4 separate regions of the Homo sapiens genome follow, and all the other regions are linked to region 1. The links come from fine-mapping of genetic effects on gene expression. A gene starts in region 1. Each other region holds a variant in brackets. All regions are shown on one strand. Distances are from middle to middle. Region 1 holds the start of TRIM33 (tripartite motif containing 33). Region 2 has its middle 130 kb from the start of TRIM33. Region 3 has its middle 140 kb from the start of TRIM33. Region 4 has its middle 26 kb from the start of TRIM33.

The links. PIP is the estimated chance that this variant, and not a neighbour inherited with it, causes the effect. A credible set is the group of variants that fine-mapping cannot tell apart.
Region 2: its variant is the best candidate, but not a certain one, in a credible set for the expression of TRIM33 in whole blood (TOPMed, PIP 0.57).
Region 3: its variant is the best candidate, but not a certain one, in a credible set for the expression of TRIM33 in whole blood (TOPMed, PIP 0.77).
Region 4: its variant is the best candidate, but not a certain one, in a credible set for the expression of TRIM33 in whole blood (INTERVAL, PIP 0.57).

Annotation. Positions count from the first base shown.
Region 1 is chr1:114,509,099-114,514,248 of GRCh38, forward strand. TRIM33 (tripartite motif containing 33) reads right to left here and starts at 2,105. Exons shown (of 20, transcript NM_015906.4): 1 at 1,453-2,105. The coding sequence starts at 1,978. LOC124904348 (a long non-coding RNA gene) reads left to right here and starts at 2,240. Exons shown (of 2, transcript XR_007066452.1): 1 at 2,240-2,827. RefSeq lists silencers at 1,642-1,941, 1,972-2,081 and enhancers at 2,272-2,441, 3,302-4,064.
Region 2 is chr1:114,379,982-114,385,131 of GRCh38, forward strand. No RefSeq gene overlaps it. Among named protein-coding and RNA genes, the nearest start is that of TRIM33, 130 kb to the right of the region's middle. The variant T/C (reference allele first, on the strand shown) is at 3,064.
Region 3 is chr1:114,372,575-114,377,724 of GRCh38, forward strand. No RefSeq gene overlaps it. Among named protein-coding and RNA genes, the nearest start is that of TRIM33, 140 kb to the right of the region's middle. RefSeq lists a silencer at 1,499-1,699. The variant C/T (reference allele first, on the strand shown) is at 2,706.
Region 4 is chr1:114,534,723-114,539,872 of GRCh38, forward strand. It overlaps the pseudogene PKMP1. Among named protein-coding and RNA genes, the nearest start is that of TRIM33, 26 kb to the left of the region's middle. The variant C/T (reference allele first, on the strand shown) is at 2,976.

The DNA.
Region 1 (5,150 bases):
CCTTGCCTTCCCTCATCCCTCAAGTGCCCTAAGTGATCTTTCTGGATCAGAAATCTGATCCTTTTATCCTCTTGATATGAAAGCCCTCCAGGAACATCCTTCAGTCCACAATGTCGAGGATACACTCTACAGGATGAATTCCAAGCCCTTTAGTGCAGCTCCACAATCGCTTACCTACAGTCCCGAAATTCAAAAGCTTTGAAATTTTAATTTTTTTCATTGGTTTGCAACAGAACCCACTGTGAATGCTGGGAGGTTATTTATCGTCTATCCCATTAGCGTGACATTCACGTGTTTCAATGTAGAAACATTAACGTGTTTGATAGAGTTAACTCAGACCCTGATAAAAGTCTCACATAACAGACCTTGCCAGAAAAAAGAAAAATCCCAAAATATTCTGAAGTCCTTACACCTGGATCCCAAGAGTTTAAGAGACTGTGAAACCTTTATCTTTTCAGCCCATCAATCCAATCTAATTTCCACCAATCACCCTACACAGTCTTTAGTTCCAGGGATGTAGAAGGGTGTCCTGTGCCCTGAATACCCTCCAACCCAGTGAGGTACTCATTCTTCAAGAAACCTGTTCATGGATTTCCTTTCCTGTGAAATTTCCCTGACCTTTCCTCTATTGTGCCACAACCATTGTACTGAGGACTCACCTCCACTGCTGCAAGTTATATGTTTCTCCTGTTAGACTGTGAATGAAGTCTTCATTGAGTACTTTATTCAATCCTAGCACAGTGCCCCAACACTAGGGGCTCATTAACGGCCAATTAGCTAAAACAAATTCATGCCCAGCTTTCCCTAACTCTCAATTTCCTTCAAAGTTCATTTCTCCTTCATCCCCAAACCTTAGGATTTTCCCTAACCATGCAGTCCACTTTCCGAGTTTCTCTTTCCCCATGTCATCTTACAATTTTCTTCCAGGCGCCTTCTCTGGACCCCTTGCTCTCCAACATATTCTCTCCACCTCCATTTAATCCATAGTCCTCCTCTCTCCTATCTGTGAACACGCCAAGTCCCCTCCCTCCAAAGCAATCCATCTTCACTGCCCTTACCTCTTACCTACTCCCTCAACACCTCGCTGGCCCGGGCCCTTTCAGCCAAAACGCTTCCTCACAACGTGTTTCCCAAATCCCCCTTCTCTCACTGTACGGGTCTGCCAGCTCCAGAACCAGCGCTCGGCCGGGTTCCGCACATCACAAACCCTCCCTCGGAGCCAGTGTCCCCTCCCCCAGCCTCTCGCAGCCGGCACCCCTCCCTTCATGCTCCCCTTATCTCTTGCGGTCCAGCTTCTCTGGAAAGTGTCCCAGGGGCGAGTCTTTCACCTTAGAGACCCCTCGGGATGGCGCCCGTCCGAGCAGCCCCAGGCCCCAGCACCTCCGTCCCCAGCTCCTCTAGGGTTGCGCAAATCCCTTGCGGCCCAGATGCCAGGCAGGGCCTCCGGCTCACCTTGCTGGATGTCGCCGTTGCTGCCCCCCGGGATGGGCACGCTGAGCTGGCGCTCCGGCTCGGGCAGGCAGCGCAGGCAGAAGGAGTGAAGACAGGGCAGCAGCTTGGGCTCCGCCTCACGCCGGCTCTGCAAGCTCTGCTGACACACGGCGCAGGTGTCCAGGAGCGAGGCTGGCGGTCCAGGAGGCGGCCCTGCCGAGGGACCCGGAGCGGGAGCCGAGGCTGGAGCTGGAGCCGGCGTCGATACTGCGCCCCCGGCAACTCCAGTGCCCACTGAGGCCGCAGGAGATGAAGCAGCCTGGGCCGAGCCCGAGGAGGCCGCGGCCACCCCCCCGTCGTCGGGCCCGGCCGCGCCGCCCTCAGCGCCGGCCCTGCCGCCTTCCTCCTCCTCCTCCTCCACCAGCACCGCGGTGAGAGGCGGCTCCGCCTCCTGCGCGGCGGGCCCGGCGGCCCCGGCAGTTACCGGCGCGCTGCCGCTGCCCCCGCCGCCGCTCTCAGCCTCGCCGCCGCCTTTGTTTTCCGCCATGTTTTCCTCTTTGAACCCGCCGGACCGCCCCGCGCCGCCCGCCGCCCGCGTCGCCGCCGCCGCCGCCCCCAGCCCCAGCCGCAGCCGCAGCAAGAGCGGCAGCCGAGAGCTAGCGAGAGAGCGAACCAACGAGAGCGCGCGCGCACGCGGCGCCCCCGCCCTCGCGTCGCGCGTTTGAAGGAGGGCGGTTGCGGCACGCGCACGTACGCACGGACGTCCTCCCGAGGGAGGCGGGAACTCGGTTCGCGGGCGCGGAGCGGTCCCGGACCCTCGAAGCCAGTTCCTTGCGTCAGTGCCGCGGCTCTTTAACCCGAAGGGAGATTTTTTTTTTAAAGCCAGAGGCCGTTGACGCTGGGTAGCCTTTGGCTGGGGTTGGTTATGAACTCCGACACAGCGGTGGTGCATACGGAAGGGTGGTAGCCGGGACGGTTCCGGTCCCTGCGAGCGTGTCCCGGGCGTCTCCGCGGAAGTTTCACCTGCCGCGCCGCTCGATCGCCGGGACCTCCTGGGTCTCTGCTGTGCGTAGACCAGCCGCGTTCCTTTGGGTGGCCGTGGAGCACTAAAGCGGGGCTTATTGTTTGTTTGGTTTTGGTTTTTTTTTTTGTTTTTTTTTTGCTTTTTGTTTTTGAACTGAGGATCTATCAGAAATAGGCTGAAAAGACCGAGTGAGGAAGAAACTCTTTAACAGCTATTTTTGGCATCTTAAGGTGATTCTCAGGAGTTGCTACGTATCAGAATCAACGGAGGAGTTTTTCAAAGCAGAGATGCCAGGGCCAGTCCCCAGACCTGAATCAGGAAGTGAGGGAGAGAGCCGACGGAGGGGGAAAAGTCCCTTCAGCTGATTCTTATGTATGTCAGTTTGGAGAGCCACGGATATAACCAATACTGCGTCCTTCTGAGGTCCCACTTTAAGTGTCCTGGGTTGAGCTGGGTGACAAATGCCCTTACAACAATGGTAGTAGAAGCTTTCAGGCCAAGCGCAGTGGCTCACGCCTGTAATCCCAGCACTTTGGGAGGCCGAGGCGGGCAGATCACTTGAGGTCAGGTCAGGAGTTCGTGGGCAGCCTGGCCAATATGGTGAAACCCCGTCTCTACTAAAAATATAAAAATTAGCCGGGTGTAATGGCGTGCGCCTGTAATCCGAGCTACTCAGGAGGCTGAGGCAGGAGAATGGCTTGAACCCGGCAGGAGGCGGAGGCTGCAGTGAGCCGAGATAGCGCCACTACACTCCAGCCTGGGCGACAGAGCGAAACTCCGTCTCAAAAAAAAAAGAAAAGCTTTCAGAAAGTTGCCTTTTTATTTGAAAAAAAAAAAAAGGTATTTGGAGGATTTTATGTAGTGCAACAACTGTTTTAGTGTTAAGATCATGAAATGCTTTGGTCTCCTGTTAGTGTTCCCAAGAAAGGTGCTGTAAGTCCTTAAACCACGTGAAAACTTTTTTTTTTTTTGAGACCTCCTCGTTCTGTCGCCCTGGCTGGAGTGCAGTGGCGTCATCACATTTCATTGCAGCCTCGACTTCCCAGGCTCAAGCCGTGCTCCTCGCAATTACCTGGGACCGTAGATGCACGCCACCATGACTTAGCTGATCTTTTTTTTCCCTTTGCCTCGAAGAGGCTGGGGTCTCACCATGTTGCCCAGGCTGAAACTCCTGGGCCCGAGCGATTGGCCCGCCTCAGCCGCTGGAAATGCTAGCATTACAGGCATGAGCCACTGCGCCCAGCCTCCTGAAAACTTTTTAAAATTTATTCAAAAATGTTTCCTGACCTCTTTATTGTCATAGTGTTTTAGAGATACACTGGGATTACAAAACAGAGGAGCTCCCTGCATTCAAGGGGTTTACAATCTAATAGAGAAAAAGATTGAGAATAGATACATGCCAGGGAGTGGTAAGTGCTGTGAAGAAAAGAATAAGTGGGGTAAAAGGGGTTAGAGGTGATTGAAGAAGGCCCCTGTTGATCAGATGAAGGAACCTGTCTTGGAGAAGAGCAGGAGAGGAACACATAACAAGTGCAAAGGGCCTGAGGGAAACGGATTCTTGGCTTGTTAGAGGAGGAGTCAGTGTGGCTGGAGTGGCTTGAACAAGGGAGAGAATAGTAGGACATGAGATAAGAGAGTTATTAAGGGAGCCAGGTCATGTACAGAAATGGTCTTCAATTTTTTTTTTAACTTTTGTGCCCTTTGAAAGAATTTTGGAAGGCTGTTTTCTTTCCTCAAACATTGTAAGTTGACTAAATTTTTTCAGAAGTTTAAATAGTTGCAGAGTTTAATTTGTGACATTCTGTAATACTGACATTTAAAAATTATTTTTAATCTAATAGGGAAGTAAACACTAAAGTGGCTTAATACTATCCATTTTTTAAAGTATATTAAAATGTTATATTTTTTAAACATGGAAAAGTATTGGGAATGTTTTAATGATATGGCTGGGAGTCTTCCCCCTTCCCCTAATTATTTCGAGTAGGCATGAATGCATATAACATTGCTAGAATGAGATAAGGTCCTGTATCAACTCCATTTTTCATTGCCACAGTCTTTACTGCATTAAAAACTATATATGTATACATGTATGTATCTACACACTCACATATATGATGGAGTAATTCCCTTAAAACTACCCTTACTTTTTTATGTACCCCTTGGAAAATTTTCCTTCACTGAAGTACCCCAGGAGTACTCATACCCTAGCCTTAGGACCACTGAGTCAGATAGGAAGGCTTGGATGGGTTTTGAGCAAAGACTCAAAGCAGAATTGTGAAAAGAGTCACTGTGGCTGCTTCCTAGAGGAATCACCTGTAAATGGTCAGTGGAATAAGGAAGACCAGTTAAGGGGCTAATAGGGTAATAACTCGGTTGGTTGGATCAGGTTAGAATCTGTAAAGGTGGTGAAAAATATGGAGTATAAATCATAAACACTTCTTCTCAAATTCACTTCAAAAAAATAAGCTAATGAACTGAATTTCTCAACCAAAAGTTTTGCTTCCATGAGTTTTCTTAACCTTTTGATGCCTGCTACATTTGCCTTTATTAAAATCTAGAATAAAAGTGTTGTTTTTGAAAACTATATAATTTGTATAGGATGGAAACAGCCCCCATGAAGTTCACTGTGTGCTCTGAGAAGGCAGTGCCTGGAGTATAACTCATGAAATATTTAGGATCATTGAAACAGACCCAG
Region 2 (5,150 bases), 130 kb before region 1:
AATACAAATAAAGCCTTTTACCATTTACCTCCCCATTCACCAGATACTCTCTACATGGCAAGTTCAACTATGTGCTCCAAGACAGAACTCTCAAGAGTTAACAGTCAATTTACAAACCAAAGCATGCCCTCTGTGGAACTCCCACTCACCAGGAGGTTATCTGGAGAGGTAACAGTCAAAAGCATACACCCACTACTCTCTCACTACCTAGTTACAACTTATCTCTGCCCACAGATGTCAACCCAACTGCTCAGAAGATAAGACACCAAGCTAGCTAACAGACACCCACCTTGCTCACTTCCTCCTCTGCCTTTTACAAGTGTCTGCTTTCTGCTCCAAAAGTAAAGATAGCTTTGGAATAAATCACTTTCATTATACTAGAACTTACTCTTGTTAATTGAACTTTGTGCAGCTAGCAACTGACCGGTGTTTCAGTCACAAGACCATATTATAACCTAAGAATTGGTAATAGCTTGCTTGTAGTTTCTAGCCCTCTGTAATGGACCAAGTTAGGGAGATAAAATAAATATTATTTTAAAATCAACTTTATAAGATATAATTTATAAAAAATAAAATGTATCCATTTAAAGTGGATAGTTAGGCTGGGTGAGGTAATCCCAGCACTTTGGGAGGCCGAGGTGGGAGGACTGTTTGAGCTCAGGAGTTTGAGACTAGCCTGGACAACACAGGGGGACCTCATTTCTATAAAAAAAAAATTTTTTTTTAATTTAGCCAGGTGTGGTGGTGCATGCCTGTAGTTCCAACTACAGCAGTTCAGGGCTGCAGTGAGCCATGTTCACAGCACTGCACTCCAGCCTAGGTGACAGTGTGGGACCCTACAAACTGACTTCTACAAAGTCAGTTGGGATTTGGATAGGGATTATACTGAATCTGTATATCAGTTTGAGTATTGATCCATGAACACCAGATATTTTTCCAAATATTCAGATTTTCTTTTTTCAGTAATGCTCTGTAGTTTTCAGAGTACAAATTTTATACCTGTTTTGTTAAACTATTTCTATCCTAATCTTTCTGATGGTATTGTAAATGAAATTATTTTCCTAATTCCATTTTCAGTTGGTTTATTGCAAGTGTGTAGAAATACAATTGATTTTTGTATATTGATCTTGTATCCTGCAATCTCAAACTCATTTATTAGTTCTAATAGTTTTTAGTGGATTCTTTGGGATTTTCTAGATATAAGACCATGTCTGCCAAAACATAGTTTGACATCTTCTTCTTTTTTTGAGACAGAGTCTTGCTCTGTCACTCAAGCTGGAGTGCAGTGGTGCAATCTTGGCTCACTGCAACCTCTGCCTCCCAGGTTCAAGCGATTCTCACACCTCAGCCACTCAGCAGCTGGGATTATGGGAACGTGCCACCACACCTGGCTTTTTGTATTTTTAGTAGAGATGGGGGTCTCACCATGTTGCCCAGGCTGGTCTTGAACTCTTGTCCTCAAGTGATCTGCCTGCCTCTACCTCTCAAAGTGCTGGGATTACAGGCATGAGCCATTGCGCCCAGCCTGTTTTATCTTCTTTACTTGTTTTAAGTCAATTCAGATTGTCTGTTTCCTCAAGTCACTTTCAGTAGTTCATGTGTTTCTAAGAATTTATACATGTCATCTAGGTTATCTAATACAGTGTCATACAATTGTTCATTTTATTCTCATACTTTCATTTCTGTAATGTCTTAATCATTTCTGATTATAGTAATTTGAGTCTTCTTTTTCTTGGTCAGTCTAGCTAAATGTTTGTCACATTTGTTGATCTTTTCAAAGAACCAGCTTTGGTTTTCTTGGTTTTCTCTATTTTCTATTTCATTAACTTCAGCTCTGATTTAGATTTCCTTCCTTCTGCTTGCTTTAGGTTTAATTTGCTCTTCTTTTTCCATTATCTTCAGATGGAATGTTAAGTTATTTTAACTCTTTCCTAACATAAGTATTTACGGCTATAAATTTCTCCGTAAGCTGGGCTTTAGCTGAAGTTCTGTTACGTTGTGTCTTCATTTTCATTCCTCTCAAAGTATTTTCTGATTTTCCTTCATTTATTCTCTGACCCACTACTTAACTTAGGAGTATTTTGTTTAATAATCCACGTATTTCCAAGTTTCCCAAACTTCTTCCTGCTATTGATTTCTCATTTCATTCCATTGTGCTGGAGTACATACTTTGTATCATTTCTTTTTTTTTTTTTTGAGTCGGAGTCTCCTTCTGTCGCCCAGGCTGGATGTGCAGTGGCGCAATCTTGGCTCACTGCAAGCTCCTCCTCCCAGGTTCACGCCATTCTCCTGCCTCAGCCTCCGGAGTAGCTGGGACTACAGGCGCCCGCCACCACGCCCGGCTAATTTTTTTGTATTTTTAGTAGAGACGGGGTTTCACTGTGTTAGCCAGGATGGTCTCGATCTCCTGACCTCGTGATCTGCCCACCTCGGCCTCCCAAAGTGCTGGGATTACAGGCGTGAGCCACCGTGCCCAGCCGTATCGTTTCTATCTTTTTAAACTTATTGAGGTTTCACAGATTAACATATAAGCCTATCCTAGAGAATGTTTCATTAGCACTTGAAAAGAATGTATATCCTCTTGTTTGTTGACAGTATTCCACAGATGTCTGTTAGGTAGTTGGTTTATTGTGTGGTTTAAGTCTTCTGTTTCCTTACTGATCTTCTGTCCGGTGGTTCTATCCATTATTGAAAGTGGGGTACTGAAGTCTCCAGCAATTATTATTGAAGTGTCAATTTCTCTGTTTCTGTCAGTGTTTGTGTCATGTATTTTGGTGCTCCATTATTAGGTGCATATATTTATAATTATTATATCTCTCTGAGGGATTAATCTTATAAAATGTCCCTTCATATAATTTTTTGTTCTAAAATCCATTTTCTCTTAAAGTATATCCACTCTAATTTTCTATAGGTGCTATTTGCATATTTTATTCTATCCTTTTACTTTCATCAATCTGTTTCTATTTTGAATCTAAACTGTGTCTCTTGTACATAGTATACAGTTGGATCAGGTTTTCAACATCACTAATGATCAGGGAAATGCAAATCAAAACCACAATGCGA[T/C]ACCACCTTACTCCTGCAAGAATGGCTACAATCAAAACAAAAAATAATAGATGTTGGCATGGATGCAGTGAAAAGGGAACATTTCTACACTGCTGGTGGGAATGTAAACTAATACAATCATTATGGAAAACAGTGTGGAGATTCCTTAAAGAACTAAAAGTAGAACTACCATTTGATCCAGCAATCCCACTACTGGGTATCTACCCAAAGGAAAAGAAGTCATTATATGTAAAGATAGTTGCACATGCATGTTTACAGCAGCACAATTCTCAACAGCAAAATACAGAACCAGCCCAAATTCCCATCAATCAACAAGTGGTTAAAGAAATTGTGATATACATATAATGGAATACTACTCAGCCATAAAAAGGTATGAATTAATGGCATTTGCAGCAGCAACCTGAATGGAACTGGAAACTATTATTCTAAGTGAAATAATTCAGAATGGAAAACCAAACATCGTATATTCTCACTCATAAGTGGGAGCTAAGCTATGAGGATGCAAAGGCATAAGAACAATACAATGAACTTTGGGGGCTTGGGGAAAGGGTGGGAGGGCGGTGAGAGATAAAAGACTACAAACTGGGTTCAGTGTATACTGCTTGGTGATGGGTGCACCAAAATCTCACAAATCACCACTAAAGGACTTACTCATGTTACCAAATACCACCTGTTCCCTGATAATCTATGGAAATAAAAAATTTTAAAAAAAAGTTTTCAGAAAATTCAGTCAGTCTTTTGATTGGATTGTTCAACCTATTCATATTTAACATTACTGATTTGTTGGATTTATGTCCTTTTTTGTTTTCCATGTCTTACCAAGTTTTTTTGGTGACTATTTTCTAATGTAGTATTTTCATTTATTTTTTTTTATTTTTTGAGACAGAGTCTCACTCTGCCGCCCAGGCTGGAGTGCAATGGCGCGATCTCGGCTGACAACCTCTGCCTCCTGGGTTCAAGTGATTCTTCTGCCTCAGCCTCTCAAGTAGCTGGGACTACAGGTGCGCGCCACCACACCTGGCTAATTTTTGTAATTTTAGTACAGAGGGGGTGTCACTATATTGGCCAGGCTGGTCTCGAACTCCTGACCTAGTGATCTGCCCATCCATCTTGGCCTCCCAAAGTGCTGGGATTACAGACGTGAGCCATCGCACCTGGTCGTATTTTCATTTCTTTAATAGTTTCTCATTACAAGAGAAACTTTGTTGATTTTTTTTTTTTTTTTTTTTTGAGAGAGAGGGTCTTACTCTCTTGCCCAGGCTAGAGTGCAGTGGCATAATTATAGCTCACTGTAACCTCTAACTCACAGGCTCAGGTGATCCTCCTGCCTCAGCCTCTCAAGTAGTTGGGACTACAAGCACTCACCACCACATCTGGCTAATTTTTACATTTTTGTAGAGACAAGTTCTCACTATGTTGCCCAGGCTGGTTGTGAACTCCTGGCCTCAAGTGATCCTCTCATCTCAGCCTCCCAAAGTGCTGAGGTTACAGGCATATAATCTCAGCCACTGCACAGTCCTGAATTTTTAGGTCAGTCTAGGCTTTACCATATGCATCTTTCAGAACTAGGCTAATTACATGCAAACATTGCTCTTATATATCTCTATTTTCATTTTCTCCTTTTTGTGATAGTTATACATATTAATATTACAAACTCAACAACACATTGCTATTATTACTTTACCAACTGCAGTTTCTCTAGCTCCGTACACCTTTGCTCTTTCCTGCTCATTTCCTTTGTACCATTATCAGAAAATTTCATAAACATTACATTTTCATATTTATAGGGCCACTATTATATATAGTGTTTATATAATTTGTTTCTTCTTAAAATCAAGAGGAGATATTCATTTGTACTGTCCTATATAATTACACAATTACCTTTACTGGTATGTATTCAAATTACTATCTGGAGTCCCTTGCTTTCAACCTGGAGTCCTCTTTTAGTATTTCTTGCAAGGCAAGTCTCCCAGCAACAAATTCTCTTTTTATCTGAGAAAGTCTGTGTTTCACCTTCAGTTTTGAAAGTAGTTTGCTGGATATAGAATTATTGGTTGACATTTTTTTTTTATTTTGAGCATTTTGAA
Region 3 (5,150 bases), 140 kb before region 1:
TGCATCTGTGTATCTTTCTGTATGTACTTTTAAAGTCATTGTGACATTCAGTTACAGGGCTTTGACTCCTGGGTCTAAAAAGGACACCAAGTCCTGCTAAATTTTAAACCCTGACAGTAATTAAAGTCTCATCTTCAGGCCTGGTAGAAGACGCCAATCAAAATAAACTGCATTCCTGAGACACAGGGCCAGAAATTAAAGCTATTCAACTCCTCAGGGCCCAGAGACTATTGCAGAAGAGATGGGTGTGTGAGATTGTCAGGGCCAATTTGACAGATAAAATAAGTTCAGTTTTTCTATAAATTAATGATTAATGTCAAAGGCACACTGATGCAAGACACTGATGCAAGCATATGGGCCCCTGTGTCAGATTGACAAAGTTTTCTTGAAGCATTAACCAACTCCTTAATAAATGTTATAAAGTTTATAAAAGGCTTATGGAAGTTATATCTTGTAGTCAATATAAAAATTTTAGAGATTGTTTATAAAATTTTGGAAAGCAAATTTAATTGGCTTCATTCTGTTTTCATTAGGGCTTATTGTTTGGAAAATTAAGTCTCCTCTCTCAAAGAATGAAGGTTTTTGTCTTTTGTTGAAATCCTTATCACTTTTATTAAATGAATGACTTATTTTACAATGATCTGTGATCCTATTTTGTGATATCAAGTGTTTTAAACCTTTGATATTTGACAAACTTTCCAAAATCAAATTATAAATTATGTGTTTTTCTGATCTAATTAATATTTTAAGATATTAGGTTCCCTAAAGCCCAAAAATGATATATTTGGCTTATTTGGTATAAAAATTTTACAGAAAGCATTGTCAAATATAAAATGGTATTTGGTTTTCTTTGGGCTGTATTTGTATAAATATGTTATTGGTATGTGTTCCAAAATTGTGGAGAAACTCCTATAATTCTGATATGACTTACTGTACATTAACAGTAATAATTATAATTGTTATGTTAAATTATTGTGTGCCACAGAAGCAACAAATTTCCTTGTGAATTGTGTCTTTGACTATGGCTGCCCTAAAACTCTTTGTCATCCACAAACAATTATTGTCTTGTTTGGGTCCTCTTTAGAAAGTGGTTTGATAATCAGCTATAAAACTCAAACAGGTACTTTTGAATGCAGGTTTCTGATAACTTTGAAGATTGTGACATCAGAATAGAGGAAAAACTTTCAGGACTCATGGAGAGCTGAAATGCTCATGAATATCAAGCAGAATAGGAATTAACTGCATGGACTGAAGTAAAAGAAGACTGAAGTAATCTTTTTGACGTTTTGCTGAAAACGTTGCTGATCCTTTTGTTTTTCAGAGTCAAGGAAATTTTGTTTTGAGCTACTGACAGATTTTTTTTTTTTTGACACAATTTTGCTCCTTTTTCCCAGGCTGCAGTGCAATGGCACAATCTTGGCTCACCACAACCTCTGCCCCCTCAGTTCAAGCGATTCTCCTGCCTCAGTCTCCCAAATAGCTGGGATTATGGCATGCACTACCATGCCTAACTTTGTATTTTTAGTAGAGACAGGGTTTCTCCATGTTGGTCAGGCTGGTCTCAAACTCCTAACCTTAAGTGATCCGCCTGCCTCATCCTCCCAAAGTGCTGGGATTACAGGTGTGAGCCACCATGCTCAGCCTACTGACAGCTTTTAACAATTAAATATACTCCTATGAAAAAAATTTGGAGCATATTTGTTTCTCTCTACCTGATTTCTCCAGAATTTAGAAACTATTTGTGAACATTCTTAACTTATGACAATATTGTTATTTGCATAAGTGCAATAAGAATCTGTTTTCATTTGTAAATGAAATAGGACACCATTGGGGAAACTGGTTATTTCACCAAGGCTTTGACTGGAATGGTGTGCATTCCTGTAAGGAATCAAACTTGACTTACAGAGCCAATAAAAGTGCCTTGGGAAAGCTGGCCTCATACTTTGTACATAGTCCCTGTAGAGAGTTCCTGACCTGTGGTAAGTAAGGAATGTCACTTTCTGACAGGCCCAGGAGCCCCAAGTTATCTTGGGACATCAAGAGGAGAAAAATTCACCCAACTTACAGGTATTTGATGGTACAAATCCATGGCTGGGCTTGGTTTTAAAAAGTCTTATCTGAGATTCCTTCTATGGAACAAAGTTCCATCAAAGCCAATTTTAAAAGCCTATGTAAAAAATAATTATTCTTAGATGGGCATGGTGGCTTACACCTGTAATCTCAGCAATTTGGGAGGCCAAGGTGGGCAGATCACAAGGTTAGGAATTCGAGACCAGCCTGGCCAACATAGTGAAACCCCACCTCTACTAAAAATACAAAAAAAATTAGCCAGGCATGGTGGCATGTGCCTTTAGTCCCAGCTAATCGGGAGGCTGAGGCAGAAGAATCACTTGAACCTGGGAAGTGGAGGTTGCAGTGAGCTGAGACCATGCCATTGCACTCCAGCCTAGGTGACAAAGCGAGATTCCATCTCAAAAAAAAAATTATTTTTGCTGCATTTTTTTTGAGACAGTCTCATTCTGTTACCCAGGCTGGAGTGCAGTGGTGCAATCTCAGCTCACTGCAACCTCTGCATCCCGGGTTCAAGCAATTCTCCTACCTCAGCCTCCCAAGTAGCTGGGACTATAGGCACGTGTCCCCACGCCTGGCTAATTTTTTGTATTTTCAGTAGAGATGGGGTTTCACTGTGTTAGCCAGGCTGGTCT[C/T]GATCTCATGACCTTGTGATCTGCCCGCCTCGGCCCCCCAAAGTGTGGGGATTACAGCTCTGAGCCACCGCACCTGGCCTTTCTTGCTGCATTTTATACAAATAATCTGGCCAAGTATAATAAAGCAAATTGGTCCTACCATGATTTCTCTTTAGTAAAAATGGGAAACTAGAGAGAGAAAAATTATGTTTCAAAAAGTATAGTATACCTGTTGTTAGATTCTAGTCTTGCCTAATGTTTTTCAATTTTTATTATTTTCTACAGTATGGTCTGAATTCTAATTTTTCCTGGATGCAAGTCTCCAAAACAATGTTTACAATTTTTTTCTCCTTTCTTTTGCTTCACCCCCCATTTTTCCCAATTTTAAATCTCTGAAAACTAGGCTATGTTTTCTTAAATCCCTGTGAACTGAATCTAGACAACTTAAACTTAGGTAGAAAATAACAGCCATCTATTTGCATACATAAGCCACTTTCATAACTGCCTAATGATGTATGGACTTCAGAGTAATGTGGCCTATATTGATTTTCCAGGATTGTTCTTTTGTTTGTTGTTGTCTTTCTCCCTTCCTCCCCTTATTTTCTCTTCATAGGACATGAGACTTCTCAACCTGCTAAAAATGAGCTTTCCTAATAACTCTAAGAATAAACCATCCTAGCCATGAGAGATCAGAAAAAACCTGAGACCAGAGGCTCATTTTCTTATAAAATGCTTTCTCCAAAAGATTTTTTTAAAGGGGGGAGATGTGAAAGGAAAATAAATTTTGGGGCCCCCAAATCACTAAGCTAAAGGGAAAAGTCAAGCTGGGAACTGCTTAGTGCAAACCTGCCTTCCATTTTGTTTAATATTCAAAGCCATCCATCTGCTCATTGAGATGAATGCATATCTGATTGCCTCCTTCGGAAAGGCTAATCAGAAACTCAAAAGAATGCAACCATTTGTCTCTTACCTACCTGTGACCTGGAAGACTCCTCCCTGCTTGAGTTGTCCCACCTTTCTGGATGGAACCAATGTACATCCTACATATATTGATTGATGTCTCATGTATTCCTAAAATGTATAAAACCAGCCTGTTCCCTGACCACCTTGGGCACCTGTCATCAGGACCCTCAGGCTGTGTCACGGGTGTGCATCCCCAACCTTGGCAAAATAAACTTTCTAAATTAACTAAGACCTGTCTCAGGTATTTGGAGTTCACACGAGGTTTTGCCATATTGGCCAGGCTGGTCTTGAACTCCTGGCCTCAAGTGATCTTCCCTCTTCCACCACCCAAAGTGCTGGGATTACAGGTGTGAGCCACTGCACCTGGCCAGCTTTCTGTTTTGAACAGAATTTTCATGTAATATTAAAAGATAACAAAAGCTTTTTGTTTGCCTTTTGAACAAGTGACAGAAGAAAAAAAGGGAAGAGAATAGAGACAGATTTAGTTGGCCTCATGCTGTCTTTATTGGGTTTTTTGGAAAGCTGAGTCTACCCTCTATCAATGAGCAGAGATTTTTCCCTTTTTCTTATAATGACCTGGAATTCTATTTTGTAATCTCAAGTGTTTAAACATTTGATATTTAACAAACTTTCCAAAGTTAATTTCTAAATTAAGCCTTTTTTTTGCTCTGATTATTCCTTTTAGATATTCAGTACCCTAAAGTCCAAAAGAGGCATATTTGATTTGGCATATTAAAATCATACAGAAAGCACTGTGAAATATGAAATGGTGTTTAACCTTCTTTAGATTACATTTATATAAATGTTTTATCAGTATGTGTTCCAAACTTGCATGAGATTCTTATGATCCTGATATATCTTAATATGTTATCAGTAGTGATTATTATGTAAAATTGTTGTATGCCATAAAAGTAGCCAAAATTTCTAGTCACTTATGTCTTTAACCATGGCCATTCTAAGACTTTTGTCTTCCACGATGGTTGTTTTACTTTGATCCTTTCATAGGGCAGTTTATAATCAGCTATAGAACTCTGAGGAGTACTCTTAAATATAGGTTTCTGATAACTTTAGAGATTGTGCCATTGGACTGAATAGAGAGAAAAGCTTCCAGGACTCTCATGGAAAGCTGATATATTCATGAGGATTGCTGATTCCATATTGAGCAGCACAGGAGTTAATTGCATGGAATGAAATAACAAAAGATTGAAGTAATCTTTTACTACTTTTTGTTTAAAGCATTTGATTATTCTTTTTGTTTTTCAGAGTTGAGAAAACCCTTCTTTGAAGCTATGTGCAGCTTTTAACAGTTGGATAAAGTAAACTCTTAGAAATTGGAGTGTATTTCTTTCTCTCTACCTGATTTCCCCAGAATTTGAAAACTATTTGTAAGTATACTTAATTTATGGGAGTACACTTATTTGCATAAGTTCAATAAGAATCTGTTTTCTTTTGTGACAGGACACCATTGGAGAAACTGGTTATTTTACCAAGGCTCTGACTGGA
Region 4 (5,150 bases), 26 kb after region 1:
GAGACTCCGTCTCAAAAAAAAAAAAATTATCTTAAAAGCATCCTCCAAATCATGTATGCCCCCGGCCCCATAAGCCCTGAATCCACCCTTGATTTACTAACTACTTTGGATGATGAGGGTTTAGCTAACTTAGATCGTAGCCCTTGCAACACACATCAATACACAAACATTTCCCCTTCCCGGTTTCCCAAAATGTAGTCAAGCTATTAATTTTTAGTTCATTTATCATGTTTTAGCCTCTAAGGGCCCTTTCTTGTTATCTTTTCTACATTAGCCTGTTCTTTGTCTTATGGATCCAATATTCGATCTCTCCAGCAATATTGTAGGGGTTGTCTTATTTTGTTTGTTGGTTGGTTAGTTTTTTAGTTTAGTTTTATTTTCTCAATTGTCTGTTTCCTTTTAAGTTCCTTTTCCCTCATGGTTTGTTTTGGCCTCTCTCTTATATTGGAGACTTTCCTAAAATGGGTGGTCATCCAACCATATTTAAGAATGAGGCACCAAAGCTGGACATAGTGGTGCATGCCTGTAGTTCTAGCTACTTGAGAGACTGAGGTGGGAGGATCGCTTGAGCTCAGGAGTTGGAGGCTGCAGCAAGCTATGATTGCACCACTGCATTCCAGCGACAGAGCGAGATCCTGTCTCTAAAAAAAAGTAATAAAATAAAATAATTTAAAAATAAGAATGAGGCACTTAAAAGCTAATCAGAAGCTCAGGTTGGGGAGTTTTCTAAATGGTGAGTGTGGTAGGAAACCTGAAAGGTAGCACCCAGTGATCCTCACCTCCTGGTATTCATGCCTGTGCAACAAAAGGATTAACCTTGCCCCAAGAAGTATCTGGCCTTTACTCTCACTTTCTGGGAGGTAATCTCTAAACTCTTGGAATGTTCTTTGTTTACCTGGGGGCCTTGGGCCATGCCAGATGGTCTATGCTAACTATGTGATATATGGTAGGGGCTCTGAACCATGCATTGTCAGCTCAACCTCAGGAGGGGGTTGGACATGAAGGCCAGCCACACAGGCAGTCAGCCACGTCTACATGACCAATAAAAATTCTGGACACCAAGGCTTGGAGGTGCTTCCCTGGCTGGGAATATTGCATGTGTATTATCACACATTGTTACTGTGAGAAGAATAGCTCCACTGGGAGAGGACAACTAGATGCTCTGCATTTAAAACTCTCCTGGGGCACAGCAGCTGCACATCCTGGGGCTCCTGACCTCTTTGCGTTTGCAGTGTAGCCCAAATCGGTCAGCACTGGAGGACCTCAGCAGCCATGTTGAAGCCCCATAGTGAAGCCGGGACTGCCTTCATTCAGACCCAGCAGCTACATGCAGCCACGGCTGACACATTCCTGGAGCACATGTGCCACCTGGACATTCACACACCACCCATCCCAGCCTGGAACACTGGCATCATCTGTACCATTAGCCCAGCTTCCCAATCGGTGGAGATGTTGAAGGAGATGATTAAGTCTGGAACGAATGTGGCTTGTCTGAACTTCTCTCATGGAACTCATGAGTACCACGTGGAGACCATCAAGAACATGTGCACAGCCACGGAAAGCTTTGCTGCTGACCCCATCCTCTACCGGCCTGTTGCTTTGGCTCTGGATACTAAAGGACCTGAGATCCGAACTGGGCTCATCAAGGGCAGCAGCACCATGGAGGTGGGGCTGAAGATGGGAGCCACTCTCAAAATCATGCTGGATAACACCTACATGAAAAAGTGTGACGAGAACATCCTGTGGCTGGACTACAAGAACATCTGCAAGGTGATGGAAGTGGGCAGCAAGATCTACGTGGATGATGGGCTTATTTCTCTCCAGGTAAAGCAGAAAGGTGCTGACTTCCTGGTGACGGAGGTGGAAACTGGTGGTTCCTCGGGCAGCAAGAAGGGTGTGAACCTTCCTGGGGCTGCTGTGGACTTGCCTGCTGTGTCAGAGGACATCCAGGACCTGAATTTTGGGGTCGAGCAGGATGTCGATATGGTGTTTGCGTCGTTCATCCGCAAGGCATCTGATGTCCATGAAGTTAGGGAGGCCCTGGGAGAGAAGGGAAAGAACATCAAGACAATCAACACAATCGAGAATCATGTGGGGGTTCAGAGGTTTGATGAAATCCTAGAGGCCAGTGATGGGATCATGGTGGCTCGTGGTAATCCAGGCATTGAGATTCCTGCAGAGAAGGTCTTCCTTGCTCAGAGGATGATGATTGGGCGTTGCAGCTGAGCTGGGAAGCCTATCTGTGACAGTGATGTGGCCAGTGCAGTACTGAATGGAGCCGACTGCATCATGCTGTCTGGAGAAACAGCCAAAGCGGACTATCTGGAGGCTGGGCGCATGCAGCACCTGATTGCCCATGAGGCAGAGGCCACCATCTACCACTTGCAATTATTTGAGGAACTCCCACCCACTGGCGCCCATTACTAGCGACCCCACGAAAGCCACCGCCGTGGGTGCCAACGAGGCCTCCTTCAAGTGCTGCAGTGGGGCCATAATCGTCCTCACCAAGTCTGGCAGGTCTGCTCACCAGGTGGCTAGATACCGCCCACGTGCCCCCATCATTGCTGTGACACGGAATCCCCAGACAGCTAGTCAGGCCCACCTGTACCGTGGCATCTTCCCTGTGCTGTGCAAGGACCCAGTCCAGGAGGCCAGGGCTGAGGATGTGGACCGCTGGGTGAACTTGGCCCTGAATGTTGGCAAGGCCCGAGGCTTCTTTAAGAAGGGAGACGTGGGCCGGGCTCGGTGGCTCACGCCTGTAATCCCAGCACTTTGGGAGGTCGAGGCGTGCAGATCACGAGGTCAGGAGATCGAGACCATCCTGGCTAACACGGTGAAATCCTGTCTCTACTAAAAATACAAAAAAATTAGCCGGGCGTGGCAGCGCGTGCCTGTAGTCCCAGCTACTCGGGAGGCTGAGGCAGGAGAATGGTGTGAACCCAGGAGGCGGAGCTTGCAATGAGCTGAGATCGCAC[C/T]GCTGCACTCCAGCCTGGGCGACAGAGCGAGTCTCCGTCTCAAAAAAATAAAAATAAAAATAAAAAGAAGGGAGATGTGGTCATTGTGCTGACCGGGTGGCGCCCTGGCTCTGGCTTCACCAACACCATGCGTGTTGTTCCTGTGCGGTGATGGACCCCAAAGCCCCTGCTCCAGCGCCTGTCCCACCTCCTTTCCCCGAACCATCCATTAGGCCAACAACGCTTGTAGAGCTCAGTCTGGGCTGTAATGTGGCACTGGTGGGCTGGGACACCAGGGAATAAGATAAATGCCTTGCTGAAACATGGCTGTGTTTACAGCCTGCTCTGGCAGGACAGCCCAGAGCCTGGCTGCCCATCATGTGGTCCCACCCAATCAAGGGAAGAAGGAGGAATGCTGGACTGGAGGCCCCAAAAGCCAGATGGCAAGAGGATGACAGCTTCTTTTCCTGTGTGTACTCTGTTCAGTTCCTTTAGAAAACAGATGCCCAGAGGACTCCCAACCCCTGGTCTGGGGTCAGGAAACAGCCAGCGAGAGTTAGGGGCCTTAGGGCACAGGACAGTTCTTCCATTTAAGTACTCTGGCCTGACCCTTACTTGCTTCCCCAAACCCCTGGGCCTCCCCAATTTGCGCCTGTCCCCACCCTCCACTCAGCTGTCCTGCGGCAAACACTCCACCCTCCACCTTCCATTTTCCCCCACTACTGCAGCACCTCCGGGCCTGTTGCTATAGAGCCTACCTGTATATCAATAAACAACAGCTGAAGTTAAAAAAAAAAAAACAAAAACTCTCCTGGACACTGTCCTATGTGCCTCTTCAGTGAGTCCTGTGAGTCCTTCTAACAAATTGTCAAACATGACAGTGTCTCAGGGACCCCAAGCTTGCAGTTGGGGTCAGAAATCATGGTGCTCTTGGGGATTCCCTACATTTGTAATATCTTTATGTAGTCATGTCTCCTTTAGTATGGGCTGGACTTAGGGACTTGCTTCTATCAAATAAAATATGACAGAAGTGACAGGATGTCCATTTTAAGATTAGTTTATAAATAAGATTAGTCTTCCATTGTGGGTGCTCTCTTTTGTGTTGCTTGCCCTGGGAGATGACAGCATTCATGTCCTGAGGTGGCCCTGTGGAGACGCCCACTCATCCTGTGATCAATAACCACACATAATTGAGGTTGGAAGCGGATCCTTACCCCAGTTGAATCTTCACATGAGACTGCAGCCCTGGCTGATAACTTGACTGTAATCTCATGAGAGACCTTGAGCCAGAAGTGCCCAGCTAAACCATGCCCTGATTCTCGACCTGGACAAACTGTAAGATAATAAATGTTTGTTGTTTTAAGCCACTATATTTGGGGTAATTTGTCATGCACTGGGCTACAATATAAGGTGATCTGGTAGACCTATGTATTGGATATCCACAAATGTTTTTATCTGGAGGTCTTTATTTTCTAGAGAGGTTCAATTTCTTCAGAAAAGAACTTTCCAATCTCCCAGGCAGCATACGCCTGGCTGCATGAGTTCAGGGTCCAGAGCTGGAGAAAAGAACCAAATTTTCACGCGTTCTCTTCTTTTTAGCCCCTGTACAAACCCCTGTTATCTGATGCACCTGATGTACCTAAGTCTGGAGCCCTTCCCGGATCCTTTATCTGGAGAGGTTGTTGCCCAGTTATGCCCAGCTGGAAAAGGGACCTGATGAGTCTAACTGCTTTGTAAATACACTTTCAACAATTTTCCTTGTTTAAAACCTAGATCCTTGTTCTCACCTTTTAAAGTAACCGGTGCTACTCACAAGAATAACTCCAGAGGATATGAATCTACCATGCAAGAGAAAGCTACAAAACTTTTAGGAGATAATAAAAAACAAAACCTTTATGACCTCAGGATGGAGAAAGATTTCTTAATCTAGTTTCAAAAAGCATTAGTTATAAAGAAAAAAAGATAAATTAGTTTACATTAAATATAAGAACTTTTGTTTATCTGAAAACATCATTAAAAGAGTACAGGCCAGGCGTGGTGGCTCATGCCTGTAATCCCAGCACTTTGGCGTGGTGGCTCATGCCTGTAATCCCAGCACTTTGGGAGGCCAAGTCAGGTGGATCACTTGAGGTCAGGAGTTTGAGACCAGCCTGGCCAACGTGGCGAAACCCTGTCTCTACCAAAAATACAAAAATT